2 separate regions of the Homo sapiens genome follow, and region 2 is linked to region 1. The links come from fine-mapping of genetic effects on gene expression. A gene starts in region 1. The other region holds a variant in brackets. All regions are shown on one strand. Distances are between the middles of the regions. Region 1 holds the start of ACCS (1-aminocyclopropane-1-carboxylate synthase homolog (inactive)). Region 2 holds the start of ACCSL (1-aminocyclopropane-1-carboxylate synthase homolog (inactive) like).

Region 1 (15,293 bases):
GAACTTTAGGCAGCATCCCTGACCTCTACACACTAAATGCCAGGAGCACCTGACTTCCCAGTTATAACAACCAAAAATGTCTCCCAACATTGCCACACATCCCCAGGGGGACAAACTCACCCTATGGCAACTACTTACAACAGATGTCCCCTCCAGTCAGCATACTGCAGCAGGGATGGCTCCACCCTCTGCATGTCGCGCTGACTCAGCTGGGGACAGAGAGGGAAGAGCACGGCTGAGGGCCAGCACTGCTACCAGCATCCACAGCACAGGGCAGGTAAAGCTGAACGCTTGTTCTGCTCATCAGAGAAACTGCGAGAGGGGCAGAGAGTGACAGCTTTCTCATACCCATGTTGCAGGTGAGGAAACTGAGGTCCAAAAAAGTGAGGTCACTCAGCCAAGGTCACAGAGCTAGCAAGTGGCAGAGCTGAGACAAAAACCCAAAATTTTTGACTCCTAGTCTGGCATTCTTTATACAACACTGCCACCTAAAAAAATCGGAGGGGTGGGTTTGCAAAAGTATTAACGGAAGAGCACACTGATCAGCATCTCCATGGGGTGATAGAAGATACTGAGAGCTAGAACCTCAGTCTTGGCTCCAACTTCTAGAGGGACTTAGGCCACTGTCTTCCTGCAAGCTCAGCTCAACCTCACACTTTAAAAAAAGTAGCAGTTTCTAGACCACCCATTCCATGACCAGTGCTAGGTTAGAAACTCCTAGTATTGTAGGTCCTTTGTCAAAGAAGGGCCAATGCAGGGGCCTTACGCACTGGGGCCAAAAGGAAGAAAGGGAATCAGCCACTTCTACATAACTGGGTCCAGCCTTTGCCCTCTCTCCCTTCCTCCCTTAGAGCCACACTGTCCAACATGGTAGCCACTGGCCACATGTGGCTAATGAACATTTGAAATGTGGTTCATCTGAATTAAGACACACTGGATTTTGAAAACTTGGTAGGAAAAAAGTATGTAAAATATATCATTAATAATTTTTGTACTGATGACATGCTAAAATGGTCATATTTTGAATATATTGGGCTAAATAAAATATATTATTAAAATTAGTTTTTACCTGGCATCTTTTTATTTTTTTTAATAGAAAATTTAAATTGATATATGTGGCTCACCTTTTATTTCAGTGCTTAGCTGCCTTAGAAGGAGGAGCTGGCTTTAGGTAAAACAGGCCTTTAAAATCTATTCCCTGGCCGGGTGCAGTGGCTCACGCCTGTAATCCTAGCACTTTGGGAGGCCAAGGCGGGCGAATCACAAGGTCAGGAGTTCGAGACCAGCCTGGCCAAAATGGTGAAACCCTGTCTCTACTAAAAATACAAAAATTAGCCGGGCATGGTGGTGTGTGCCTGTAATCCCAGCTACTCAGGAGGCTGTGGCAGGAGAATTGCTTGAACCCGGGAGGAGGGGGTTGTAGTGAGCTGAGATCACACCACTACACTCCAGCCTGGGCAACAGAGTAAGACTCCATCTTAAATAAATAAATAAATAAATAAATAAAATCTATTCCCTATAACCCCTTCCCCTTGGGGTTGAGATTTCTCCCTTTGGAAATATGTTCCTTTGGGTTAAGGATTGCTGTCTCTACAAACCCAAACTCTGCCACTGCCGCCTTGGGAGACACATTTATTAGGCATTGTCAGTGGTTGCTAAGATGGCTTACCACAGCTCAAGAAATCGGATTATAAAATTTTCAGAAATGTTGCAAGCTGTGTTAAAAACAGCCACTTTTAAAAAGCAAATTAATATAAACTGACAATGAAATACATTATCTTACAAACAAAGGTGATAAGCACTCAAACGTCACTGCTTCCTGATTTGCTAGTACCTTTTACTATCTATGTTTTTGAGGTCAGTTCTGTCTACATGTCTATATGGTGAAAATATTACATAAGTGTGCCCATGCAGCTCTCTTCCAACTCTGCCTGCAGTGATATCACATAAGGAGCTTGAAATCAGCCATGGTGGGAGTATTTACACTACGGAAATTGGCAAAACTACACATCAGGCTTTTTTTGTCCCCCTGAAGAGCTAATTGCTAAATACCTACACCACAAAGCACTGAGTGTTTCCCTCTGAGATCAGGGGACCCAACACAGCAGGAGGGACTGAGTGAAATAAGAGTCTACAGAGATGAAGAAATAGGACTACAGTGGGGAAGAAACTCACCTAAGATCACACAGAAAACTGTCCCAAGGTAGGCCTGGAACCCGGGTCTCCTGATTCCCAGGCCAGGGCCACTGAGCCAAGCAGCAGGCTCCTGTTGGGAAAGCATTCCAGGGAAGACAGCTCCTCGGAGCTGGTGATGCCCCCTAGAGGGGCCCTAGGACTTACCCGCCAGGACAGCAGGTCAAAGCAGAGTTTGTTCTCACTGGTGCCCAAGTTAATGATGCCCTGGAGATGAGAGGTACAGAGGCAGAGTTAGCATGGCAGGGGGGTGCCAGTGAAAGGCCCCAGGAGCCCATGGAGGCAGCAAAGCAAAGTGGGAGCTCTCTACAATCCCACCCTTTCAAACATCCCTCCTTGCCTTTGCTCAAGGTGTGCCTTCTGCTCAGCTGCCTGATCCCATCTTCCCATTTCTAAAGCTCTGTCCAAATGCCATGTCCTCCATGAAGTCCCCCCTATAACCCCACCTGGAAGGGATACATTCTTCTGGATCCCATAGCTCTTGATCTGTCCCCTTTAGAGAACTGGTCAGTTTCCACCCCAGGTCACAGGGACTGAGGTACACACCGTATCTCCCGTACTGAGGGTAAGCTCCCTGAAGGACAGATGTGTGCTGAAGACACCACTGTTTCTCTCGAGGGGTTTAGTGGGACTCAATACACATTTACAGAATGAAAGAATAGAGATGGTATATTGGCAGTCTGGAAGGAACAGAAGCAAAGGTAGATGTAGATCAAGAAGAGGTTCCTTTGCCAGTGCAAATACTCCCCCAGGAGACCCTGCAACATCACACAATACCTTGATCCCCACCCCACAGGCATTTATTGTCATAGGATAGGCAGGCAGGCATAACCCAAGCTCTCCCTTACAGAGTCCCCAGGGAGACTCGGTGCAGGCCTCACGCACAGCTAACTGCTGACCCCTGAGTTACTGCAGGGGGAGTGAAGGAAGGAAGATGAAAAAGTAAAACCTGAATGAGCTCAGGCTATGACAAAATAAAAGGCAGTGCTCCTTCACGACCTGGTAAGCAAGCTGGGAAGCTCCTCGAAACAGAGCCAATCTGTCCACACATCCTGGCAGCTCTACCTTCAAAACACATGCACAGTCCAACCATGTCTCACCCTCCACTGCTGGGACCCTGGTATAAGCCACCATCATTTCTTGTCTATATTATTACAACAGCTTCCCTCCCCTCTCTCTGTGTACTGTCTCACCTGCCAAGTCAAATCTCCATACAGCAGTCCAAGACATCTTTCAAAACCCAAATTCAGACCACACTGCTCCTCCTTTGAATACCTCCTATTCCACTTTGTCCAAAATCAGAAGGCTCACCAGGTCCTGTGGGGCCCTACAGGTTCTATCACCTCCACCACCCCATCCTCTTTCTGACCCCATCGCCTGCCCATCTTGTTTTTGGCTTTATTCCAGCTCCAGTAGCCCCTCTGCTGTCCCTTGAACTCATCAAGCATGATCTAACCCTGGAGCCTTTGCACTGGCTGTTTCCTCTGCTGGGAATGCTCTTCCCTAGATAACTGCATGGCTTACTCCCTGTGATGCGCAGCCTGTAAGGCCTACTGGTATTCACACCCCTTGAGTATGGGCTGGGCCTAGCAACGTGCTTCTAATTAACAGAATAGGCAGATGTGATGGGATGTCACTTCCAAAGTTAGGTTATAAAGAGTCTGTGGCTTTCCATCTTGGGTACCATGACCCAAGTGATTCTCTCTTGAATCACTTGCCCTGAGAGAAGCCAGCTACCATGCCATGAGGCAATTCTGTGAAGAAGCCCACGTGGAGAAGGACTGAAGCCTGCCAATAAGCATAAGAGTGTCATTGGAAGTAGAGCCTCCCACCCAATCCCTTGGCCCCAAGTCAACCTTTCAGATGAGACCACAGCCCCAGCTTCATGGCACCTTCACAAAAGATCTTGAGGCTGGGCGTGGTGGCGTGGACTGGCACGGTGGCTTGGCCAGGCGCGGTGGCTCATGCCTGTAATCCCAGCACTTTGGGAGGCGGAGGCAGGCGGATCACCTGAGGTCAGGAGTTTGAGACCAGCCAGGCCAACATGGCAAAACCCTGTCTCTACTAAAAATACAAAAATTAGCTGGGCATAGTGGCACACACCTGTAATCCCAGCTACTCAGGAAGCTGAGGCAGAATCCCTTGAACCCGGGAGGCAGAGGTTGCAGTGATCCGAGATCATGCCACTGCACTCCATGGGTGTCACAGCGAGACTCCGTCACAAAAAAAAAAGAAAAAGAAAAAGGAAAAAAAAGATCTTGAGCCTGAGGCATCCACCAGGATTCCTGAACTCCAAAAATTGTGAATTGTTGTTTTAACTTGCTAGATTTGAGGTCATTTGTTATGCAACAATAGATAACTAACACAATCCCTCACTTTTTCCAGGTTTCTGCTCAAATGTTCATCTTATTAAAATAGCCTTCTGTGACCTCCTTCTACTAAATAGCAACATCCCCAGCCCACCCATCTTTCTCTGTCTTCTTTAACCTGGTTTATTTTTCTCTATAGTACTCACCACCATATAGTATACATATATTTTCTCTGTTCATTCACTGTTTGTCTCCCTAACTAGAATATGAGCTCTATGAGGATAAGAACTTTGTTTCTGTTCACATCTACATGGTAGATGCTCAACAAATAAAGATTATTAAAGGGTTATTTGTAACAGCTTTCTGACTTCTGAAGGCATTATGAGAATAGCTTATATTTGGGACAGAAAATAATAATAGCAGCTATCATTTATTGAGTAGCACTGTGCTAAAAACTTCATATACTTGCTCTCATTTAATCTTGACTCTTCTACACAACAGGTATTATTATCCCATTTTATTTTATTTTTGTTTGTTTGTTGTTATTTTGAGATAGGGTCTCACACCGTTGCCCAGGCTAGAATGCAGTGGCATGATCTTGGCTCACTATAGTCTCAACCTTCCAGGTTCAAGCAATCCTTCCACCTCAGCCTCCCCAGTAGCTGGGACCACAAGTGCACGCCACCACACCCTGTTAATTTTTTTATTTTTACCTTTTTGTAGTGATGGGGTCTTGCTATGCTGCCCAGGCTGGTCTCAAACTCCTGGCCTCAAGTGTTCCCTCTGCCTCAGCCTCCCAAAGTGCTGGGATTACAGGCATGAACCACCATGCTTGGCCTTATTATCTCATTTTAGAGATAACTTAAGATTCAAGGAAGTTAAGTAACTAGCTCAGCAACACACAACCTATAAGTAAAACAGTTGCAACCTGAACCTTAGTTCTGCCCTAGCTCTAAAGTTGGATAGTCGACAGGTCGTGGGTCAGAATCCATAGAACATCATATGGTTCTTGAATTCCTCCCTCAGAAATCAAGGTCCCCTATATTCTAAATGGACCATTTCCTGATCCAGGCAGTACACTGGGGCCTCTCTAAGCTACATCAGAAGCCCTCTTGGAGGTCAGAGTACCATAACTCCAACCTCATAAGAGCAGGCTGGATGCTGCCTTATTGGTCAAGGTAGGGTACCCCACCCTGCAGTTCTCTCTTGGGTCCCAGTGGGAGGGGAGCTTCACTCACACTGGGGTTCTTGTCCTCATCATACTCATCCATGTGGTAGGTCCTGTAGCCCTCCTCAGCTGAATCCCAGAACCATTTAATCATTCTTCCTCTAGAGGACAGGTAGGAGGTATCAGAGGAGATCATGGCAGGATCACCCACTCCACGGAGCTCTGGCAGCTTCTGGTCCAGTTTTCTGGAGCATTCTCCTTCCAGATCTTCCCCATGGCTACTGCCCAGGTCCTGCATGCAGGTGGGGCCCAGACAGGTGGTGGGAGCCCTGAAGTCCTTTTGAGGAAGGGTGAACATCTGCAAAAAGACAAAACGCACAGGCCTGCTCAAGGGATTTCCATAGCACCAAGCATCAGAAAGGAGTTGGAGTCATGGGAGTCCCCTTTCTCTTATCTGCCCCTTCCTTTAGGTTTATGCACTCATCACTTCCTGTGTCCCTTAGCTGTAACCATATGTGCAACGACTTCAACAAGAAAAATCTGTTAAGGACCTAGTACGTGCCAGGGACTGCACTTGCCACATTGACGTGACTTTAATGTATTGCTGCTTTAGCGTGTTCTACTTCTGCAAAAGTTTTTCACTCTCCAGCCTAAGGGGTCATCAACATTCTTTTTCCACCCTTGCTCACCTCAATTACCAAATGCCAGGTTAAAATTTCCTGAGTTAAAGCAGAGTATTGCCTGGGAGTCCTGGGGGTCTTGTGGTGTAAAGGGTAGGATGAGATTATGTGGTGTTCTGAGGCAGATGGCGGGTAGGAACTGAGGGAAGGGAGGAATGGGAACCTCCACAAGTGCAGGCAACCCAGGCAGAGCTCCAGGGCCTGCCTCTTCAGTCCTGAAGAAACGAGGTGTGGACACCAAGGAGAGGGTGGTCTACTCCTGCCCGCGGGTGTGAACTCCTTCACTTCTCTAAGCCAGTTTAGTTTCCTCATCTGCACAGTGGATATAACAGTAACCACCTCGGGGTGGCCGTGAAGACATAAATATATATGTTAGTGACAATAAAGTACTTAGAACAAATCCTGGCTGATGACCAAAGTTCAATAAAATATGAGTCATTATAGCGTAACTCCTTGCCAATTTTCCCAGTCCTGATGCACAACACAAGCTCTGGTAACACTGGGCGCACCATAAACTCAGCGGGTACCCGCAGTTAAATTTTCCTCCGCAAAGTCTTCTCAGGGGTACTCTTTAAATTGGCTGGGCTCTCCCAAGAGCGCTCACCTCCAGCTCTCCCGACAGCCCAGGTCCGAGGAAGGGCAGCACAGTGGGCGGAAGCCGGGGTGGGAGTAAAGCCTGGGGTAGGGGGGCGGCGGGGTTCGAGCCTCCAGGCGTCCAGCAGGACGGCGGCGAATCCACAGCCAGATACCCGCACTCGATGAGGCCTTGGAATCCCGCAAGTGGGGCGGCTACCGCGCACGAAGAACCGAAACGGCCTTCTACAGGGCGGAGGACGTCTCGCGAGAGACGGCTCCAGGTTTCCAGGCAGAGGAAGTGTGATCGGCGCCAAGGGATTCGAGATGGAAGGGCAGAGGCTTTTGCAAAGTGCACAGAGGGAGGCCTGAACGGCTTCCTCCTCTGCAAAGTAGTGGATCCCACCTACTTGGCGGAGCTGGAGGAGGCGGTGCTGGCACTCGGTGGGCGCCCATCACGTGTAGGTTTTCTCCGCCCGGAAACGCCCTGCGGCGACTTACGCGTGGGTGAGGACAGCGCCCCCCTGCGCTCAGCGCGCCCGGACTAGGAGACTGAGGGCGGTCCGCACCGGGTTGGGCTTCCAGGCCTGTTCAGGGCGCAGTTCGTCCCCTTGCCACTCAGGCGGGGGCGGTCTCGGCGGGGACTACGCTTTAAGGGTGGCACACGAGGTAGCACCGCGGGACCAGGAAAAGGGAAAGGGGCGTAATGCCGTTTCCCACCTCCACTCTGGGTGGCCTGCGCGTGCTGGGCCGCCGCCGGGCCGGGTCTGCCACCTCCTTCTGCCTCCTGGCCTTGGTTCTCCAGTTTTCAAAGGAGGTTAGAGCCACAGAAATTTCTTGCCAAAGTATGCTTGGCTGCGGCCCACACAAAGGGCTTTTTAGATTCGGGTGTGAGCATCCTTATGGCCTTTCATCGCAGTTTGTCATTTCTGCCCCTTTCATTTGTAGGGGATTTTCTGTAGCCCTCATAGGTTCTTAGTTGGGGGAGACTCCTGTTACAAAAGACAAATTAACAAGAGAAAAACAGACAGAAATTTACTGACATGTGTATTTCATTTATACATGAGAAATCTGGAGGGAATGAGTCGTTCTGGAAGAGGTGACTTTGAATTCCAGTTTTTATAGCATCTTCAACAAAGAACAGTAATTTTTTTAAGTTACAAGACAAAGAAATAGGGCTTTGAGTCTCTCCAGGAGGCAACTTGTGAGAAGGCAAAAAAAAAAAAAAAAAAAAAAGACAAAGGCCAGTTAGTCAAGCTTGTTAATGTAAATTCCTCTGGTACCATCTCCAGGCCATAGGGGTCTAAAGTTGTCTTTGTTCTCCTAGGTAGACAGAGGGACAGGATACCTTTTGTCTTTGTAAACCTGTGTCCTACTTTTAGGCAAATAGGGCCAGGGTAGAGAGCTTTCCTGAATGTGCTGCTGCTTGTCTTTAGCACAATCCTTCATGTTTTGGGGAGGCATGTCCTGGTCTCCCACACGTGCCTGCAATATTTGTTGAACTCTGGCTAGGTGTGGCGGCCCACGCCTGTAATGCCAACACTTTGAGAGGACAAGGTGGGAGCATCCCTTGAACCCAGGAGTTTGAAACCAGCCTGGGCAACATAGAGAGACCGTGTCTCTACCAAAAAAAGGTTTTTATGTTTTTTTGTTTTTTTGAGACGGAGTCTCGCTCTGTCATCCAGGCTGGAGTGCAGTGGCACAATCTCTGCTCACTGCAACCTCCGCCTCCCGGGTTCAAGCAATTCTTTTGTCTCAGCCTCCCCAGTAGCTGGGACTACAGGCACGCACCACCACGCCTGGCTAATTTTTGTATTTTTAGTAGAGATGGAGTTTCACCATATTGTCCCGACTGGTCTTGAACTCCTGACCTCGTGATCTGCCCGCCTCGGCCTCCCAAGTGCTGGGATGGCAGGCGTGAGCCACTGCACTCAGCCAAAATGTTTTTGTAAATTAGCCAGACTTGATGACATGTGCCTGTGGTTTCAGCTACTTGGGAGGCTGAGGTGGGAGGATCACTTGAGCCCAGAAGGTAGAGGCTGCAGTGAATTTGATCGTGCCACTGCACTCCCACCTGGGTGTTTGCGAGACTCTATCTAAAAAAAAAAAAAAAAAAAAAAAAAAATTACATACACACACACACACACACACACACACACACACACACATATAATTTCAAAAGTATTTTTCAAACTCTGCCCTAAGCTCTACATATTCTGGCAATGGGTACAGTGGGCACCCAGGTCCCAGGTAGAGCTGCAGTCTCTGAGGTGCCTTGAATGGGAAAGTCTTCTTTCCCCATGAAAGGAAATAAGCAGAATCTCTCAATACAGGTATGGCTGGGAAGACATGGCTGTCTTCTGGCCATTCCACTTCTTGTCTTCACTTTTGCCTTGCACTAGCTAACACTGTGACCTTGAGCAACTCTCATGACTTTTTTGGCCCTTACTGTTTTCTTCTGTAAGATAAGGAAGCGATTATTTTCCTCTATTTAAATCTTAATTCTATGTAATTCACATCTCAGTGAATGCCTGTTATGTGCCAGGTCTCTGTAAAATGCGAGGATACGGTGATGAGCAAGACAAACCAAAGCCTGCATGATTGATTGGGAAGGCCGACTTACAATGTGGGGACTATTTTAAAAAGACTATTTACTGGGTACCATGGAAACATGCAGCAGGGGGATTTAACCCCACGAAACAACAAACACAGGCACTTGTCCTAAGTGGAAGACATACACACACGTTACATTAAATGTGAATTGACTAAAGATCAATTAAAAGATCATCAGACTGGATAAAACAGCAAGAATCAAGCATATGGTGTGTGCAGGAGACACACTTTAAATACAAAAACAAATGGTCAAAGGTAAAAATGTGAAAAAAAACAAGCAAATAATAATCATGAAAAAAGCTGATGTGTTCATATTGGTATCTGATAGTAGGCTTCAAGACAAAAATAATTAACAAAAATAAAATGGGGCATTTTAGAATAAAATGATTAATTTATCAGGGTGACAATCTTAAAAGTTTATGCTCGTAATAACAAAGCTTCAAAATACATGAAGCAGAAACTGACAGAACGAAAAAGAGAAAAGACAAGTTCATAATAATTGGAAAATTTTATACCACTCTCTCGGTGATAGAACAAATGGATCAAAAGACACTAAGGATCAGAACTTTTGGACATTATACAAAAATTTAATCTAATTGACATTTATAGAACACCATCCCCAATACCACAGAATATACTTCTTTTCAAGTGCAAATGAAACATTAAGATAGACCACATGTTGTAAACAAATCTGGCCATAAACTGTCTTAATAAGTTTCAAAGGATTGAAACCATAGAGTACATTCTCTAGTCACAATGAAATTAAAGTAGAAATCATTAACAAAGAAAGCTGAACAGTCCCCAAATATTTGGAAACTAAGTTACATATGCTAAGCAAACCATTGATTTAAAAAAAGAAATCACAAGGGAAATTAGAAAATATTTTGAATGATTAAAAACCAGCAGATCAAAGTTTATGGAATGTAGCTAAAATAATGCTAAGTGAGAAATGAATAGCTTGTAATGCATATATTTGAAACCAACTTAAAACAAATGATCTAAGCTTCCACATTAATAAGCTAGAAAAAAGAGCAAATTAAACCCAAAGTAAATAGAAAGAAATAAAGATAAGAGCAGAAATGAAGGCGAAACGAGAAAAATCAATGAAACTGAAAGTTGGTTCTTTGAAAAGTTCAATACAGTTGATAAACAGTTAGATTGACTGATCAAAAAAACTCATTTTGTTGCAGAATTTTGCTCCTTAGTTCAGCTAAAACCGGGTTCTTGTCACACCACCAGGAAGGATTAGGAACATGGACACATTGAAGGGTGAGGGGAACGGAATTTACTGGGCAAAAAGGAAAAAAGAAAAATACTGTCAGCAGAGCAAGAGGGGGTCCTGCTAACAGGCCTCCAAACTCACATTGAATCCCAGGCCACCACACAGAAATTGAAGAGGCCAGGCTCCTCCCCGCTGAGCATGGCCACAGCTTCCCTTGGCTCCATCTTGTTCTCCCAGTGCACAGATGGGTTGGAGATTCTCCGGAGACCCTCCCCGTAATCCCCCTCCTGCATGTATCAATTTCAGTATCAGGAAAGGAAAAGGAGATACAACTAAAGATCCTAAATGTATTAAAAGGATAACAGAATATTTATAACCAATTTTAAGTCAATAATTAAACTTAGATGAAATAGACAAACTTTATTGAAAGGCACAAATAACCAAATCTGATACAAGAAATAGAAAACTCGAACTGTCACAGAAATTGAATTTATAAGTAAAAGCCGTCCCACAAAAAAAAAAAAAGAAGAAAAAAAAAACCTCCAGGCCCTTATGGTTTTACAGCTGAATTCAACCAAATATTTAAAGGTTGAAGAAGTTTTTGGACACAAACTTCTAGAAAATTCAGGAAGGAACAGTTTCCCAAACATCTATGAAACCAGTATTAATCATGATACTGAAACTAACAATGCATTACAAAAAAAAAAATTATAGAATGATGTCCTTCTTGAATGTAAACTTCTTAAAATAGCAAACCAAACTCAATGGTATATAAAAGGACAATGCATCATGACCAAATGGGGTTTATTGCAGCAATGTGAAGTTGCTTTAACATTAAGAAATCAATGTAACTTACTACATTGATAATCAAGAGAAAAATCATATCTCTATAAATGCAGATGAAAAACATCTAACAACATTGAACCCTCATACATGGTAAAACTCCCAGCAAACTAGTAATAGAAGGACTCTTTATTAGATAAGGGACAGAATGAAAAATACAGTAACGTTATACTCAAGAGCAGAAGATTGCACTCAATGCTACTAAGACTGAGAACAAGGCAGGCTGTCCTCTCAACCACTTTTATTCAACGTTATACTAGAGGTTTTTTAAAAAGAGCTATATCGGTCAGGAGCGGTGGCTCAGCTTGTAATCCCAGCACTTTGGGAGGCCGAGGCAGGCGGATCACTTGAGGTCAGGCGTTTGAGACAAGCCTGGCCAACATGGTAAAACCCTGTCTCTACTAAAGATATAAAAATTAGCTGGGCGAGGTGGCACGTGCCTGTAGTCCCAGCTGCTTGGGAGGCAGAGGCAGGAGAATCGCTGAACCAGCAGCAGAGGTTGCAGTGAGCCGAGATTGTGACACTGCACTCCAACCTGGGCGACAGAGTGAGACTCAGTCTCACAACAACAACAACAACAACAACAAAAACACACACATACACACACACACACAAGAAAACTGACAAGAATAAACAAATTTGGATTCGGAGCAAGTACGGCCACAAACCCAAGCGACTAAAGCCACCAGTTGGTACTGTGAGCTCTTTCTTCATCCATAAAATCGTAGTAGTCCCTTCTCTGCCCACTTCACAGTATCAGTGCTCTGACATGCAAGGGCTTTGCAGAGAAACTGATGGGTGGCTTAATTTGAACAGCTGAAAACATTAGAAATGGAAATGGACAACCCCAGATGCTACGAACTGAATGTGTCCCCCCAACATTCATATTTGAAATCCTAACCCCCAAGGTGATGGTATTAGAAGGTGAGCCCTTTGAAAAGTGATTGGGTCATGAAGGCAGAGGAAGACCTCTCACCTCTTCTGCCACATGAGATGACACTGGGAAGATGGGACCCTCACCAGATGCCAAATCTCCCAGGGCCTTGAACTCGGCCTTTCCAGCCTCCAGAACTGTGAGAAAGATTTGTTTCTAAGCCATCCACTTTGTGATATTTTCATATTATGAAGGGACTAAGACACCAAGCTTGTCAGATTTTTTTTTCTTTTTTGTAGAGACAGGGTCTTACTCTATAACCAGGCTGGAATGCAGTGGCACGATATGGTTCACTGCAGGCTTGGTCTCCTAGATTTAAGCGAGCCTCCCACCTCAGCCTCCTGAATAGCTGGGACTAGAGGCACACATCACCACACCCAGCTAATTTTATTTTTTGTAGAGACAGGGTCTCGGTTGCTCAGGCTGGTCTCAAACACCTGGCCTCAAGCCATTCTCTGGCCTCAGCCTCCCAAAGTGCTGGGATTACAGGCATGAGCCACCGTACCCAGCAAGAGACTTTAAAAGCCTTTTGGGAAGGTAAAAGTGGAACAAACTCTAGTATTTGGAAGCAGGAATACCTGCAATTATACTCCCACCTGCCTCTTAGCAGGTCATGTGGAAGTGGATGTGATTTCATAAGAATCTTATAGAACATTGCATCCAACACCTGGAAAATGGCCCATCAGTTAAGGATGACTTCTTTCTTTTTCTGGCCTGCTCTAGACAGTATTCTTTACATAGAACCTGCCTTAGAATTTAAAAATTAAGGAGGACAGAAAATCATCTGGCTTCCAAAGATGATTATGAAGAATATAAGCAAGAAAATAAGATGGGCCTAGAATTTAAAAGTATAGAATTTATTAGGTACTGAATATAAAAATAAACCATCTAAATAGGGGCCCAGAGAACTCCCTTTATTTCTCTAGGTGTCTCTAGGCCTTTCCACCCCAACCCCGATAAAAACATTTTGCATATATAATGGCTAGCAAAGACTAAAAAGATGGAAAGCTTCCAAAGACAGCAGGCACTCAGCTTAAGGAGGGTGACAACCGGGTAAGATGAGATCTTCCTGGAGGAGCCCACCATTTTCTCCATCGCAACACTGACAAAAAGACACCCTGGCCTTCTGGGCCAGAGGCTGACATTAGGGGGTCCCTGAGCAAGTGATGGGCTGGAACTGCTGGTTGGGAGGCAGACGGCCTACTCCCTCATTGCATCCTCCAACTGCTTCACTATCAAAGCCTCCTTCTGCTCCTGCAGCACATCACAGAACCGACGCATAGCTAGAGGGTTCAAATGGGGACAGAGAGAAATAGTGATTTAGTAGGTTTGCTGGTGGGTCCCAGACATACCCAGGTCATGGTCAACCATAAAAGCCTCTCATTCAGGGATCCTGAACTTCAGCCCTCCCACCTTTGGGATGGATTTCCAAGTCTACATGTTGCATCCCTGATTTCTTTTTGAATATCATTGTTATGTCAGCCTGCGAGACATCTCAATGTCTTGTATCAAAGCCTGTACTCTCGGGCTTATGGCCTTGGCCTAATCAGGATTTCTATTTGCCTCTAGTGTCTCTTCACTCAGCCTATCTTCTATGCTAGCTCAAAAGAATTCTGTAACAAAAACCTTCATGAGAATGAACAATTCACTGCTATATTCCCAGCAGGTAGAACAGCATCTGGCATGTAGTGGAATGCAATAAATAAATGTTCACATGAATGTCCTATTCTCTATAACCTCAGAGGAGAATCTAAACTCTCTAGTATGGCATACAGGGACTTCCATGGTCATCTGCCTATCCATCTCACTTACTAGGCTGCCAGTCCCACAAGGGCAGAGTACTACTTTTTTCGGGTTTTGTTTGTTTGTTTTTGTTTTCTTGAAACAGTCTCACTCTGTCGCCCAGGCTGGAGTGCAGTGGCGCAATCTCAGCTCACTGCAACCTCCACCTCCCAGGTTCAAGCAATTCTCCTGCCTCAGCCCCCCGAGTAGCTGGGATTACAGGCGTGCGCCACCATGCGTGGCTAATTTTTTGTATTTTTAGTAGAGACAGGGTTTTACCATGCTGGCCAGGCTGGTCTGGAACTCCTGACCTCATGATCCACCCACCTCGGCCTCCCAAAGTGCTGGGATTACAGGCATAAGACACCGCACCTGGCCTCAGAGTACTACTTTTTAGCTTGTGGTCCCAATGCCTCACTCAATGGCAGTCACAGAACAGATACCCCAAATGGGTAATGAATGGATAGGTGCTTGAGGTACATATCAGTTCTTGTTTGCAAGAGCACCTAACTAAAGATAGACATGGAAACAGGGAATAAAGGGCTAGATCTATAGGATGTTTAAGGGGGGTGGGGGAGAAGATTGACATATTAAATTGATGGGGCGTCTTTAAAGGATTGGGAGGTCAGCTCCACTCACCCAATTTTAGCCGGGGGAGCTCATCTGCAAAGATGAGGCAGAACCAGCCTGGCTCCTTACACATGTAGGTTTTGCCACGGGATAACAATAGCTTGTTGTCCAGGAAGCGGCAATAGAGGAGCCGTTCTTCTTCAAATGTACAGGGATCCAGGTACTAGGGAGGGCAGAGGAACAGAACTGAGCCCAAGACCCAGCTGGCAGGTCTGCCCAAGAACACCTGTCCTCATTCCCAGAACACACCTTTTTCAAGTTGATCCAGACATAGAGGCCAGAGCTGCGGTTGTGAAAAGGGATCTCCAATGCCTTCAGCTCAGCAGTGATGTACTTGTGAGCTTCC
Region 2 (15,293 bases), 21 kb after region 1:
TTCATACCAGAGTGCCAGTCCACATGCCTTCTCCACCCCTACCCAACCACTTAGATGGGTAGAAAGCAAGCCCCTCTACCCCTTTAGGTGTCCCCAGAACAGTCCATTGTCTAGGCATACTGAGCAGGGAAGGGGCCCCATTCAGACCTCACTCTCCAGGTGGACAGGAATCAACTCAACCTTTGCATACAGGCGGGAGCTAAAGGCAAAGCCACCATAGAAGGGAGCAGGGACCAGGAAGGCCTCTGGAAACACAGAGAGACAGAGCTATCAGTCCAAAGTCTCCCAATCAGAGCCTGTTGCCAGGCTCCCCAAACTAGCAAAGCTATCGACAGAAAAAAAGTCAGTTTCACGATCCTTTCTACCTGGGGATTAATGTTCTTAGGTTCAGGTGCTATGAAAGTTATCCATTATTATAGACATCACTGGGGGAAACAAAACTCTAGTTTCTTCTTTGCGGGTACACTAGAGAAGAAGAGGGAAGAATATCACTGAGTAACTCAGAATCCAGGGCACAAGTCAAGCGAGGCTCACTAGCAGATGGAGCAATGGTTATCAGGAAAGTCTCAACAGATTCAGGCCAAATATCAGAGGTCAAGGTCCATGCACAAGGAGGGCTCCAGTTATTTGGACATGGTGATCTCACGTTCTTTTCTTCCCATCCATTTGGCCTTACTGATGAGCTGAGAGAAGCTCCTTTGCAGGAAAGGGACTATCTTAGCACTTCTTTTGATGCATCCAGAGCTCTTTAACATTGGAGCCTCTTGCTTAAGCATTGTTACCGGGGAGGTTCAGAACAGTCCACTCAACCTTGTTGGGTCCAGGACTAATTAGCCTTTTTCTGAAGAGATAAGAAATCTATATTGTCTGAGTCCATTGCCATGGCTGTCTGTATTGCAGCTGAGCCCAAAAGCCCAGCCATGAACATAGTAGGTAGGCTCCCATCATCATTCCTGGGGCATACCTCCTTGAGGTCCACCATGTCTCTCTTCCCTTAAATGGAGAATCCAAACCCCTTGTTCCCACAGAAATAGGAAGATAACCTAGTCAGTGTGGGAGAAGGCCCACCACTTTGGGGAAAAGGCCTTGAGTCAGGATGCTCTTCTTCCTCAAAGTCCAGTGCCCGTGTGTTCCTACCTGTGTTGCTAGTATTTCACTGAGAGTGAAAGGAGAGCCCACTGACTTACCGCCTGGATCACACAGAACCATGGCCAGGGCACAGAAGACAGAGCAGCAGCCATTTAGAACCACCACCTGAAGACAACACATGAGAGGCAGAAGTCAAAACCAATACCTATGTGAGAAGGGGTAGCCATGCTTTCTCCATCCCCCTGGGCAGAACAGGCACAGGGAGCCTCCTCAGTTGGGACACATTGGCCTTCATGCTGCCCTGGCCCTGAGAGTCTTCACTGGTTCTCCTTGTACCCCCTAGAAAGGGCAGAGCATCCTCCAAGAATATAGCCCTCCACCAGGGTGGCAGCAAGGCTGGGAAACTGACTCACATTTTCTGGGTCAAGTCGGGTAGGTGCCCTGCAGTAGTAGGTCAGGAACCGGGCCACTTCTTCCCGCAGGCTGTAAACAGACCCAGAGAGACCTTGTGGCTTCCGGGCCCCTTTCCTCACTCATGGTCTAGATGGTCATTGTCCAGCCTAACAGGGACCTTTTCTACTCAGTCCAACCTCATATTACAGGGCTACTGACTAAGACCATCAACTCCCCAAGTCACACAGACAATAAATGAGAGTTGGGACAAGAACTTAGGCCTTGGCCGGGCACAGTGGCTCATGCCTGTAATCCCAGCACTTTGGGAGGCCAAGGCGGGTGGATCACAAGGTCAGGAGATCAAGACCAAGCTGGCAAACATGGTGAAACCCCGTCTCTACTAAAAATACAAAAAATTAGCTGGGCGTGGTGGCGGGCACCTGTAGTCCCAGCTACTCGGGAGGCTGAGGCAGGAGAATGGCCTGAACCCAGGGGGCAGAGCCTGCAGTGAGCTGAGATAGCACCACTGCACTCCAGTCTGGGTGACAGAGTGAGACTCCATCTCAAAAAAAAAAAAAAAAAAAGAACTCAGGCCTTTTGAATTATTCCTACTATACCAGAATAACTATTCCTACTATACCAGGCTGCCTCCTGATGAAGTTTTGCTCTAGGCATTTTCTAGAAGTTATTACCCAAAGAGATAGGGAGGTAACCAACCAGGAATTTGGTGCCTTGAATCCTCCTTCTGGATAAGGACAGCTGCCTGTGGGACCAAGAGACTCTAAATCTGAAGGTCACTTACAATGGCTGCCCTCTCCAATCAGGGTACTGAAGCAAGGTGTCCTCAATGCAGTTCATGTCACTTTCTTGCAACTGTTGACAAATAGAACATGAAGACAGGTAGGCCAGGGAAGTTCAAGAGGCCTCATTCTACTCCTAGTTTGTACATGAGTGTTTGCCCTCCACATACATGACCTCCTAGAAAGGGAATGGGTATATACACTGCATGCTCCTTAATGAATGGAGGCTACCATCTTGTCATAAATTACACAAGTAGATACCTCACTGGGAAGTATTTGACCCAGAGGTTCCCATAGCAACTTTCCCACCATATACCTAATCAGAGAATATCTCTGGACAGTCAGCAAAGCCAGGAGGTTAAATGTGCTATTCTAGAAGCTATTTCTTCACTCCTCTTCCCAGGCTCCTATGTCTCACCCCTGTATCTACCATAGCTCAGGAGCACGCTAGGGGGACTAAGCCTTGAAGGGGTGGGTCCCAACACAGCCCAGAACATCCTTACTCTTTCAGTCATCAGATCCATGCAGAGCTTGTTCTCACTGGTGCCAAGGTTAATGAAACCCTGGAGATGGAAGGAATCCAAGATCAGGTCAGTCCTCTTGCTCCACCCTACATAGATCCCTTGAAACATTAGTTCAAATGGAGATCTCACTGCCTATGAGGCAATTCAATCCAAATTTGACAACTTTACACGTTAGGAAAGCTTTCCATGAACCCAAAATAGTACAGCTTGCAAATTTCCCCATTAGAGCCACATAAATAAGTTATGTCCTATCGACCAGTCATTGAGTTCTTATTATGTACCAGATACTAGACCAAGTGCTTCTTGTGAGTTGTCTTAATTCCTGAAAAGAAGGTTCTATATAATCCAGTTTAAAGAGTGAAGTTTAGAAAAGTTGAATAGCCTACTAGCCATGTGACCTTGGGTGAAAAGTAGAACTCTACCTACCTGACGCCTGAGCCTGGACCCTTAATCCCCAAGGCCCCATCTGGCACCTACCTCTGCTACTTCTCCTTACACATTAGGGCCTTCTAAGTTATTAGAGGAGAACAGAGATAGGAACAGAAGGGGAAGGTATAGCTAATGTCACCCTCCACCCTCTGGCTGGAGAGCTGCTAAGGACCCCCTTTCCTGGAAGCCTTTCATCAGTTCCCCATCGCCCTTAGGGTAACATTCCTTTTTTTTTTTTTTTTTTTTTTTTTTGAGACAGGGTCCCACTCTGTCACCCAGGCTGGAGTGCAGTGGCGCGATCTCAGCTCACTGCAACCTCCAGCTGCCGGGGTCAAGTGATCCTCCCACCTTAGCTTCCCAGATAGTTGGGACTATAGGTGTGTGCCACCACGCCTGGCTAGTTTTTGTATTTTTTGTAGAGATGAGGTTTCACCATGTTGCCCTGGCTGGTCTCGAATTCCTGGACTTGAGCGATCCACCAACCTTGGCCTCCCAAAGTGCTGGGATTACAGGCATGAGCCACCACGCCCAGCCTCTTAGGGTAACATCTTAACACCTCCCATCCACCTCTGTTCACACCTCCTGCCACAGCACCAGTGGTCCCTACTCTGGCCATTGGACCTCCTTTCCCAATCACTCCTAGCCCTTCGCATCTTGAAGGTTTCACGTGTGCTGTTCCTCCTGCCTGGAGGGTCATGGCCATGGCCATCACCACATGGCTGGCTGATTCAGCCTTTAAGACCTCTTCCCAGACCACCTGAAGTGGGCATCCCTTTCACGTTCTTGGGAAGATTATTAATGCCTGTGCCCCAGTGGCTGACTCCATTCATCACTACGCTAAGTTCTTTAACGGCAGGCTCATTTGTCCCTGTGACCACAGGGGCCAACTCCTAATAATTAAGAGCTGGGATTAGGGAGAGGGAGGGATGTGGGGGTGGATGGAGTTCTCTAACTTTCTGGGGCATGTCACTTTATTTCTGTAATTATTCCCTTATCTGCAAGATGACAAGAGTGCCCGTTTCATAAGGCTATAAAGAATGAGAGCATATATAGCACTTGGCCCAGGACTCAGTAAATCCAAGTGACTGGAGCCCGTGAGGATGCTGCCCACCCCCCACCCCAAATTCTCACCAAGGTGTTCTTGTCCTTATGATATTTATCTTTTTGGTAGGCATTGTAGTCCTGGAAGCTCGACTGATAAAAGACAGAGATGTCAATCCCACGGATGGATAGGTCGCGGTTGACAAAGGCAGCTTCACAATCACTCAGTTGGGGAACTGGATCAGGCTGCCCAGAGAGTTGGGCCCTCTGCCCATATCTGACATCACCCCTAGAGTCCTCAGAAGGAAGAGGCACTTGGAGCTCCAGGCCACTCGCGGCCCCAGACTGTAGGAGGTTGATCATCCGGCATATTAAGCGACTCAGAAGGGCTTCATGCTCACAGATGGCCTCAGTGTGCCTCCTTTCCTCCAGCGACAGGCCCTGTCTGCTCGTCAGCTGCACGAAGTGCTCCGTCATGGCCTGCTGCAAGTGCAGCGTTATCTCCAACAGCTGGGTATAGATGCTGTGGTCTCTGGGGACCCGGCCTCTCCTCTGACCAGAGGGCACAGGAAGGGTGTCTGACCGATGACTCATACTCCGGGTATCTTTACTGGCCTCTGAAGGCTGCCTGGCACCTATGGAGAAAGAGACCATTGACAATGGAGCAAAGGAGGATCTCCTGGACCCTCAGGTCCAGGAATGGATGGAGACAGAACAGATCTCAGATCTGTTCTTCTCACTTCCATGCCTTGGTTATATGACCAGATTGGTTCATGAAGAGTTACCTACTCTTTAGGGCAATGAGTACATGGCCTCAAGCCTAGACACTGAGTGCTCTATTTAAATGGCATTAGGATGTGTTCTGAGGAAGAGCAGGGGGATATGAACAAGGAGGCTCTGGATTTTCCACCCCGTTCTTCAACCTGAGCACTTCCTGCTTTGTTTGGTTAAATAGGAAAAAAGGGTTTCTACTGCTCAAAAACAATCACCATCACTACCCACTGAGTAAAACATTCTGCTAGAATAAACTAATGCCTGAGGGCCAAATCTGGCCTGCCACTTATTTTTGTAGATAGTTTTATTGGAACACAGCCCCATTCATTTATTTATGTCTTGATTATGGCTGCTTTTGTGTTACAATGGCAGAGTTTAATAGTCATGACAGAGACCACGTGACAGAGACCATGTGGTCCACGAAGCCTAAAATATTAACTGTCTGGCCCTTTACATAAAAGGTTTGCCAAGCCCTGTTGAAGAACATCAGCCCTTCTTTTTGCCTTTTCTTCTCCAGGTTGGCCATACCAGATACTCAAAGCCTTTAGATTCCTCAGTTCCTCTATCCTCACTTGGCTTCCTGCAAATGCCTTCCACCTACTCACTGTGACAGCTGCCTTAGGCTTCCATCACTTGTAACTATGGGCTAGGTACATGGCTCTCAAACTTTGAAGTCCATCAGAATCACCTGGAGGGCGTGGTAGGAAACAGATGGTGAGACCTCACCCCTGAATTTTGAGTCAGTATGTCTGGGGTGAGACCTGAGAATCCTCATTTCTAGCAAGTTCCTGGGACTATACTTAGCAATTTTGTTTTGTTTTGTTTTTGTTTTTTTTTGGAGGGACTGGGTCTTGCTCTATCACTCAGACTGAATTGCAGTGGCATGATTATGGCTTACTGCAACAAACTTCCAACGATTAGGATTAACCTTCCTTTTGAAAACAAGTTAAATACTGAACGAGACCAAAAAATACCTTTTAAAGCCTCAAAGAATCAATAAATCAGATAGCAAGATCCCAGAAGGTAGGAAAGCTTGAGGCCAACAGCTGCCACTACTTCTTTAAGACAATCCTTATATCCCAAGATATCAAGACCCTTTTTTCTAAAAATCTAGACCTATGCCCATTCCACCAAATGCTACAATTCCAAGTTTTTCCCCCTAAGTAACATCCCCCTACACACACACAAACACAAAAAAAAACCTCGTTGCTTCTTTTATAAATTTAGGGCACCAGTACTTCAGAGTACCAAACACTCTGTCCAACTTCTTCAAACCATGTTCAGTTTGCCTGTGATGTTCCCATTGCAACCTATACCTCACCTTAGTGACATTTAATATTGTTACTTGTTCAGTGTCTGCCCAGGTCAGCCTTCAGTATTACATTCTTAGCACAGTACCTTGGCACATGGGCAACTAACATAGTTAATGAGTAGGAGAGGCATAACCACAAGGATGTTGCCAAGTCAGGGAAGAGATGAGCCATAAATGAAGACTTTGGCCATGGAAGATGGAGCAATAGACAGAGAAAGCCACAGAACAAAGCTGTATCAAGTCTTGACTTACGATCCCAACCTTTAATCATAATGCAAAAACTTTATTCAGTGTTAGGAACATACTGATGAGAAAGAAATTGAACAAATATAAGTGTTTATGCCTAGAGAAACCGTCTCTTCCACAAGCAAGAACTTTGCCCTGGCCCAAATTCCCTGTCCTAGAAGAGATTCATTTTAATGGGGCTCTCAACTCTGTAGGTAAGTCACACTATCTTTCCAAATACTTGATTATCATAGAGCATTGCAAGGGCCAGGTGAGATTCCTTTGGTTTTGCCTTCCAAAAGGTGGTGCCTATCATCCCTGTTGGTCCTGCGGAGTGCTAGTGGAAAGAGCCAAGATCGGGGTGGTAACCTCCCTCCAATGAACAAGAAGCTATTGTCACCAGGCATCTTCTTCCTTTTCCCAGGACTGGAATTACACATTGAGTATCTTTGCCCTGTGTCACCTTAACAACAAAGTCAAAGATGGGACAGCTCTTTGGACAGCTCTGTAACATCAGCCAGCTCAGCCCATGGTCCCAGAATTTTAGTTATTCCAGTTCAGTTAAATTAGGGGCTCTTAGACTTCTTGCCATGGAAGTCCTTGCTGTTACCAAAGTCCCACTAGTCTGCCCCATATACCAAGCA[C/T]TCAGCCGGGGACTCCAGGCACATAGGAAATAGGGACCAGGATGCGGCAGGGAAGCTGGAGGCCAGTGTGGCCTAGTAGGCAAATGGAGGAGGAAACTTGTTTAAAGTAGTTTGAATGAGAACCCCCCAGGGCAGATTTATATAGCAAACATGGGGGCCAAGGCAGGTAACTGAAAGTAATGCGTTTTCCTGGTAAAAATGTTTTGGTTTTTTTGTGGGGGGGGTTGTTTGTTTTTGAGACAGAATCTCACTCTCTCGCCCAGGCTGGAGTGCACTGGTGCAATCATGGCTCACTGCAACCTCTGCCTCCTGGGCTCCAGCGTTCCTTCCACCTCAGCCTCCTGAGTAGCTGGGACTACAGGCACATTCCACCACACCCAGCCAATTTTTGTGTATCTTTTGTAGAGATGGGGTTTCATCATGTTGCCCAGGTTGGTCTCAAATTCCTGGGCTCAAGTGATCCTCTCGCCTCAGCCTCCCTAAGTGCTAGGATTGTAGGCAGGAGCCACCATGCATGGTCCCAAAAATGTGTTCTCTGATAACAAAGTGAGTATGCAGCAAGGCCAGGAGTAAACCTAGAAGCTGGACTTCTGCCAAGACTCATCTTTCTATGGGAAAAGTCTATTGTAAATGACACCATTCCACAAAGGCAACAATGCCCCTATTCCTCAGCCCTAAGTTGTCTGGTACCGGGGGTATACCAATCCTCTCCTCAAGTCTCCTTGGCTATACCATTGGTTTCAGTATTCGTCAGCCTCCCACCATCTACCTTTCCATTCACCCGGGGGCCTTCTCTAGCAGCTAGAACCAGTATCCCAGGATCAGCCCAGTAGATGCTAGCAGCCTTTTGACAAGAGCTGAAAGACAGATCATGAACAGAAGTTGGGAAGGAGAAATGAATGTGGGAAATGAAGTGGGAACAGGCTGGCAGTTCACTTTTGATGCCAGCACATGGCTATACTGTTTACAGAAGGATACTTCTAATATCACTTTTTCTAGTGCCCTACAAGCCCTTATAACTCTTCCAGCCTTCCTTCTTCTTGCCACACACCAGCCTCCTCTGGTGTCTCAGTACTCTCACCTAATTCAGATTCTTCCTTCTGGGTATGGCAAGTATGATAGGGATTGCAGAATCGTCTTCATGTGCATGTAAGGGGAAGCAAGTTATTTGGGGATATAGATCCCTAAATACAAGGTGCAAAATTGAAAGCTCAAGTAGAAGTACCCTTGACAGGCCTAGGCTCTATTCTATAATTGCTGCTCACTAACTGTAGGATGTTGGAAGAATTACTTCCCCTGTCTGGGCATCAGTTTCTCCGTATGTAAGATGAGAAGAATGTGATGAAACTGAAGCCCAGTGAAGATAAGTACCTTCTAGGGTCTCACATTAGAGCCAGGATTTAAACCCCAAGCCTCCCATTTTAGCCCTAGGAAGCAGAGTGAACTAGTAGAAAACCAGTCCTTGCATGAACTCCAGCCTGGCTTCATGTCACATAATACCCAGAAAGTCTCAAGTTCTGAGATTGGGTTAAATCATACCGTATTTTGGTGACTCAAAATTCCAGGTAGAAGTAAGCAAACACTCTGGAAGCTGCTACCATAGAGTATATTTCTCAAAGCATTTTTAAAATATTGTGTCCAGCATATAGAAAATCAGGTACATAAATAAACAGCATGACCTAAAACCACCAGCACAGACAAGAGAAAGACCAACTGGTCTCCAGCTATTGGGAGTAGATTATAAAATAATTGCTTTTCTGTTGAAGGAGATAAAATCCAAGTTTAAAAATGGAAAGAAAATTAAAATTTATTAAAATAACAGATTTGAAGGAAAACAGGAGATCCCCAGAGGTTACAATATAAAGACCAAAAATTTAAAACCTCTAAAGATAAAATTACTAACCTGGAAGAAGAGGCTGAAGAAGCTTTCTGGAATAAGGCATGAAGACAAGAGAAAGTAAGAGAATATGAAAAAATCTAATACACACACAGATGTATTTTTTTGGAGTCCCAAAAGAAGAGAAAATGGGACAAAAATCATTTGAATAAGCTGTATCTTCAGTGCTAGATAGTTAGACATCAAAGCATGGATTCAAGAAGTCCAAATGCTAACTGGGATAAGGAAATCTACACTATATAGTGAAACTACAAAAAACAAGACAAAGATAACATCTCAAAAGCAATCCAGGAAAAAAATGTACCTTTCAAGGAATAACAGATCAAAAGCTAACTTCATCAACAGTGGAAACCTGAAGACAGTGGGATGTCATTTTCAATGTACTGAAAGAAAATAACTCCACTTAGAATCTTGTGACCATCACAGGATCAGTATTTCCACAGGCAATACCAATTCCTCAGACTAGTGGTTGCCAGGGGAGGCGTGTAGGAAACTGACTGCACTGGGGCCCAAGGAACTTTTCTAGGGAAATGGAGGTGATCTCTATTTGATGGAGTGGTAGGTAGATGGTGATAGCCATTTGTCCAAGCTCAAACGGTATACTTATGAATCTTATCAGACTTAAATAGATTTAAAATGTAGCTATAGCGAACTAAGTCTCTGCTAGAATATAAATAGCTAAATACGTTTATTTTTGAGACAGGGTCTCACTCTGTCACCGAGACTGGAGTGCAATGGTGCAATCAGAGCTCAATGCAGCTTCAACTTCCCAGGCTCAAGCAATCCTCCCACCTCAGCATCCCGAGTAACTGGTATCACAGGCACACACCACCATGCCCAGCTAATTTTGTTGTATTTTTTGTAGAGACCAGGTCTCACCTTGTTGCCCAGGCCAGTTTCAATCTCCTGGGCTCAAGTGATTTGCCCACCTCAGCCTCCCAAAGTGCTGGGATTACAGGTGTGAGCCACTGCACCCAGTCAACAACTTTATTTTAAATGCTAGCCTTTCCAGTGGAAAGACCAGGATGGGGTTGGGCCTCATACTTACACAGGATATTTGCATAATTATTTTATAGTAGAAAAAAGTGAGCTAGTTCCAAAAAAGACAAGCTAAAAAAACAAAAAAAACAAACAAAACAAACAAAAAAAAAACAACCAGGAAGGCTAGGCATGGTGGCTCACACTTGTAATCCAAACATTTGGGAGGCTGAGGCAAGAGAATGGCTTGAGGAGTTGGAGACCACCCTCATCAACATAGTGAGATCTCATCTCTACAAAAAAAAATAAAAATAAAAATAACAGGAGAAAGCATGTACACAGAAATAAGGACTAAAGACTATTTTGAATAGTTCTATGGCTACACTTCAATCTGGATGAAGTGGACAATTTAGTATAAAAACTGAATTTATTAGTCCTAATCCCAGAAGAGAAATAAAATCTGAACAAATCAGTTCCCATGGAAGTTAGAAAAGAGCTAACTCCCTAAGAAAGTAACTGGCCCAGACTGTCTCACAGGTGAATTCTACCATATATTTAAAGGAGTATATTACTCCAATGCTATTTAAATTGTTTTAGAGAAGAAAAACCCCATACTTTATAGTCAAATAAATAGTGATAAAGATTTGATGAAGTTTAATGAACTATGGATGAATTTCACCTATGAGTAGATTATCAATATCTTAAAAGCTGAATAGCATTCAGCAAATGGAATCCAATGGCACCATAAAATAACCTTATGACCAAGTGGGGTTATATGAGAATGTAAGACTAGTTTAATACTATTATTTATATCAACTTTTCATTAATAGATCCTAGGGAGTTTCAAAAAATCAATTATATCTATAGATGCTAAAAAGATACCTGACGAAATTCAGCACCCATTCTTTATTTAGACAACTTATTTAAATGAATGGTACCTATTTAACATGAAACATCTCTCAGCTAAAAAGCCAGCCTCCTACACAATTGGGAAACAATGGAGGGATTCTCATAAACAAGATAAGGCCTACCTATTGTCTCTGCTAAATATCTAACATTGTACCAGCAGTCTCAGCCAAGAATATTAGCCAAGGTAAGAAATTTGAGTCAGAAAAGGGAATTTGAACTATCACTATCTACAGACTACTACTATACATCTGGAAAACACAAGAGAATTAAAGGAAGATCTACAAGAGTTTAACATAGTTGTAGAATAGGGGCCCATCTCATGTTTTTATAAAGTTTTATTGGAACACAGCTATGCCTATGTTGCATATACACATAGGTCAGACTTTGGTAAACACTAGACTAGCATTTTCAACCTATCCTAGAGGTTCAAATATAAGGACCAAAAATGGAAAACCTCAACAAAAGGGTTTAGCAGGCAATTAGATATAGCTAAAAAGAAAATTAGTAATCTGGAAGAAAAGGCTGGTCACTTAGCTAAAAAGTGAGCCTAATGACTACCTAGCTGACCCATTCAAGTAGTTTCATTTTCACTTAACCCTAACAACTGCTGTGAGGTAAGAATTATCCCCAACTTTCAGATGACACGGTTAAGGACATAATTCATTACAGTCCATTGAATTTAGCAAGGTCCCCAGATATGACCTGAATGATTATGAATGACGTAAACTATTCATGGGGGACATAGAATTCTCTGAACCACAATATTACCAAAGACAGCTAAAACATTATTCAAGCACTGCCTCAAGTCAGGCTCTGGTCTAGGTTCCTTATGTATTTTATGTTATTTAATTCTCAAAACAGTCCTATTAGGAGGGTACCATCATTAGACTCACTTTACAGGTGAGAAAACAGAGGCTCAATGAATCACACAAGATGGTACGAGTAGGACGTGGAAAGGGGAGCTTCAAACCCAAGTTGGTCAACCTCAGGCCCCATTGCCCTTATAAACATTCCTCCTTAAGGCCTCTCCCTGGAAGGGCGCACATACTCTCAAAGCTTGGCATTCACTTTTGGGGATCCATGAGCCACCTAAGTCCATGAGGGACCCTACCTCACTGGAGGCCCAGGAGCCCTAGGCATCACCGGGTCCAAAGTACCTCTCTCACTCTACATCCCACAGCTCACATTACCCTGCCACCAGCACTTACCTCTGTATCTGTTTTCACTCTTCTTTTCTCTGGCCTAGAAACTGACTGAGCAAACCATCATTGACTGTCAGCACTCAGGGACCTGCTCTGCCGCCCTCCTCACTGAATGTGTTTACCACTGTGGCCTGCATGTTCTGCTTGTAGGCACAAGGTGACTTTAGAGGTAATAATAAGATCCACCTTTTCCCATCCAGGGTGATCTTCCCCAGGAATTCCCTATTACCTAAAGTGGGCTTTCTTTGCCCCATTACAGAGAAAAGGCTTTGCAACGCCCACCCAGGGAGAACCACTCATTGAAGCCACGGTTCTCAAACTTTGGAGGGTATTGGCATCACCTGGAGAACTAATCAAGTGCTACAGGACCAGGCTCTTTGAAGTAGGCTAGGCCTGGGCCTACGTACTTTATCAAGACCACCAGGTGATTCTAATACTTACAAACTACTGAGAACTACTAGAGCAAGGGACTCCCAATTAAAACACAAATGAGCTACTGACTTTTCCCCATATCTGAGGAGGTCATGATTTGAGAACAAGCTGAAGTGGGTTAACCCAGGGCAGAAAAGACAACTTGGCAAGAAAGATCAGGAAGGAGACCCAGGAGAGCTGGATCCCAATCTGCCCAGGCCCCCCTGCCTGTGTGGCCTTGGCAAACCCACCTAGCCTTTCTGGTTTTCAGTTTCTCCTTGTTAAAGATGGCAGTAATGAAACCTACCTCCCCGAGGGTGGTATGAGGACTAGACGGGAGCAGATATGCTAAAGTGATAGGGCAGGTGGAACCGCCCATGACTATGTGCTGTGGGCTTGCCAGGCTTGCCCTGGGCAGCTAGCTGCTGTGCTGCTTTCTCTAGGGGTCTACACAGAAGCAAGGCCAAGGCAGCCTGTAGCCCCAGAATACTCTGCCTTGTGCCTCTTTGCAAACTTTAATGAGAGCTTGTTTAACACACAGGTGCCTGGGCTCCACATCAGTAGGATTCCAATTCAGTAGGTGTATAACTGAACCCAGGAATGTGCATTTTATTTATTTTTTATTTCCATAGGTTTTTGGGAAACAGGCTGTGTTTGGTTACATGAGTAAGTTCTTTAATGATGATTTGTGAGACTTTGGTGCACCCATCACCCAAGCAGTATACACTGAACTCAATTTATAGTCTTTTATCTCTCACCCCCTTCCCATCCTTTCCCCCCGAGTCCCCAAAATCAATTGTGTCATTTTTATGCTTTTGCATCCTCATAGCTTAGCTCCCACTTATTAGTGAGAACATACAATGTTTGGTTTTCCATTCCTGAGTTACTTCACTTAGAATAACAGTCTCCAATCCCATTCAGGTTGCTGTGATTGCCATTAATTCATTCCTTTTTTATGGCTGAGTGGTAGGAATCTGCTTTTTAAAACAAGCATGACAGGTGATTCTGGAAGACTCTTGGAAAGACAGTGCCATAGTAGATTCCACACCTAAAGGAAGCATTAGCTGTGGGCAGGCACCTTACCCCAGAGGGCAGGACCTCACATATCCCCCATCCTGTCCTGCACTGGGAGCCCATCTCCTCTGTCATTTGTTTATTCATTCCCCATTCATTAAAAACAAAACTAAAAACAATCCACCGGGCACCTATTAGATACCAAGTATTGTCTTAGACCCTGGGAGCATCAAAATGAAGAAATAAATCCCCTGACTTGAAGGAGCCCCAGAATAAACTTTCCAATGGAAAAGTCTGATCCCCTATTTCCTGTGCTCAAGATCCTTTGACAGTTCCCCTTCACCTTACAGAGACTGCAAATTCAAATACCTTCAGGGACACAGTGGCGACACAAGTACAATGCTGACTTAAGGAAAAGGGAGAGGTTGGGGAGGACATAGGCTAATGGAAGCCTGCCTATTCCTCCAATAGGCATTCAAAATTTTTTAAAAAGTAAGGCCAGCCAAGCAAAGTCATTTTGCCCGTTGATTTCAGCCCTGTAGCCATCATTTGCAAGCTCTTCAGTGTGGCAAATAGAGCTTTGGAATAATCAGTCACATCTAGCTCCCTACTCTCATCCTTTGCATTCCTCTCCCCCTCACTCTACCCTCTAACTCTACCCTCTAACAACCCAAATCATTGAGCCTCCTTAACTCTCCCAGCACACCAGGATTTCTTGTTCCCCCGGGCCTTTGCACATGCTGCCTCTCCACTGGAAAGCCCTGTCAGAGGCTTGCCCACTCTGCGCATTCCTGCTTATACTTCAAGTCTAAGCTCTTTTATCACCTCCTCCAAGGAGCCTTCCTCCTTAACTCCTCAGGCAGATAAAGGGACCCATGCCTATGTTCCCACATACTTTGTTCATGCCCTCTGTATAAAACACAACAGGTAGGCAGTGCTTTAGAGTCTTGGCTCTAACATGAATCCAGCGTCTGGGCTACTCTGTCCTCAGATACCTGCTTGGCTCACTCCCTCATCTCCTTCAAGGCTTTGCTCAAAGCTCACCTTCTCCCAGAGTCCTGCTATGACCACCTATTTAATTCTACAACCCGCTCCTCATGCTCACCACACTGCAGTTCCCCCTCCTCCATCCCACCTTTCATTTTTATAGCACTTTTCCCCTTCAAGCATACTATATAATGTACTCATTTATTACATGCATCGTTTATTTTCAGTCCCCTTCTCTAGAAGGTAAACTCCATGAGGGCAGAGGTCTTCAATTGCTTTGTTTACTGATATTTCTCAAACGCAAAGAAGGGTGGTTGGCCCATGGAAGAGCTCAATAATGTCTGTGAATGAATAAATGAATGACCAAGTGGATGGATGGATGGATGGATGGATGGATGGATGGATGCATGGATGGATGAATACCATAATGCAATTTTCTAAGGTCTGGGCCCCCTTCTGGTCTGTACACTATTCACGTTCTACCATAGTTCCAAGGCACACAGGGAGTTTTTAGTTAATATTTGTTGAATATTCATTTCTAACTAATCTTTCAATGACTGAAGACAAGAATGAAGAAATCAATCAGTTGCAGGCACCTTGTGAATGTTGACAGTAGAGTGAAGATTTACCCAGTGGAAAAACTTCACCTTCCACAGCCTGGGAG

The links. PIP is the estimated chance that this variant, and not a neighbour inherited with it, causes the effect.
Region 2: its variant is the best candidate, but not a certain one, in a credible set for the expression of ACCS in whole blood (INTERVAL, PIP 0.50).

What each region holds. Positions count from the first base shown.
Region 1 is chr11:44,058,363-44,073,655 of GRCh38, reverse strand. It overlaps ACCS (1-aminocyclopropane-1-carboxylate synthase homolog (inactive)), which reads right to left and starts at 7,386. Exons shown (of 15, transcript NM_032592.4): 1 at 6,955-7,386; 2 at 5,741-6,028; 3 at 2,341-2,400; 4 at 139-209. The coding sequence starts at 6,028. ACCSL (1-aminocyclopropane-1-carboxylate synthase homolog (inactive) like) reads right to left here. Exons shown (of 14, transcript NM_001031854.2): 12 at 15,197-15,293; 13 at 14,957-15,110; 14 at 13,679-13,818. The coding sequence ends at 13,736. RefSeq lists enhancers at 7,217-7,406, 7,427-7,516, 7,617-7,746.
Region 2 is chr11:44,037,614-44,052,906 of GRCh38, reverse strand. It overlaps ACCSL (1-aminocyclopropane-1-carboxylate synthase homolog (inactive) like), which reads right to left and starts at 4,926. Exons shown (of 14, transcript NM_001031854.2): 1 at 4,367-4,926; 2 at 2,786-2,845; 3 at 2,285-2,355; 4 at 1,503-1,572; 5 at 1,188-1,254; 6 at 148-245. The coding sequence starts at 4,870. The variant C/T (reference allele first, on the strand shown) is at 7,232.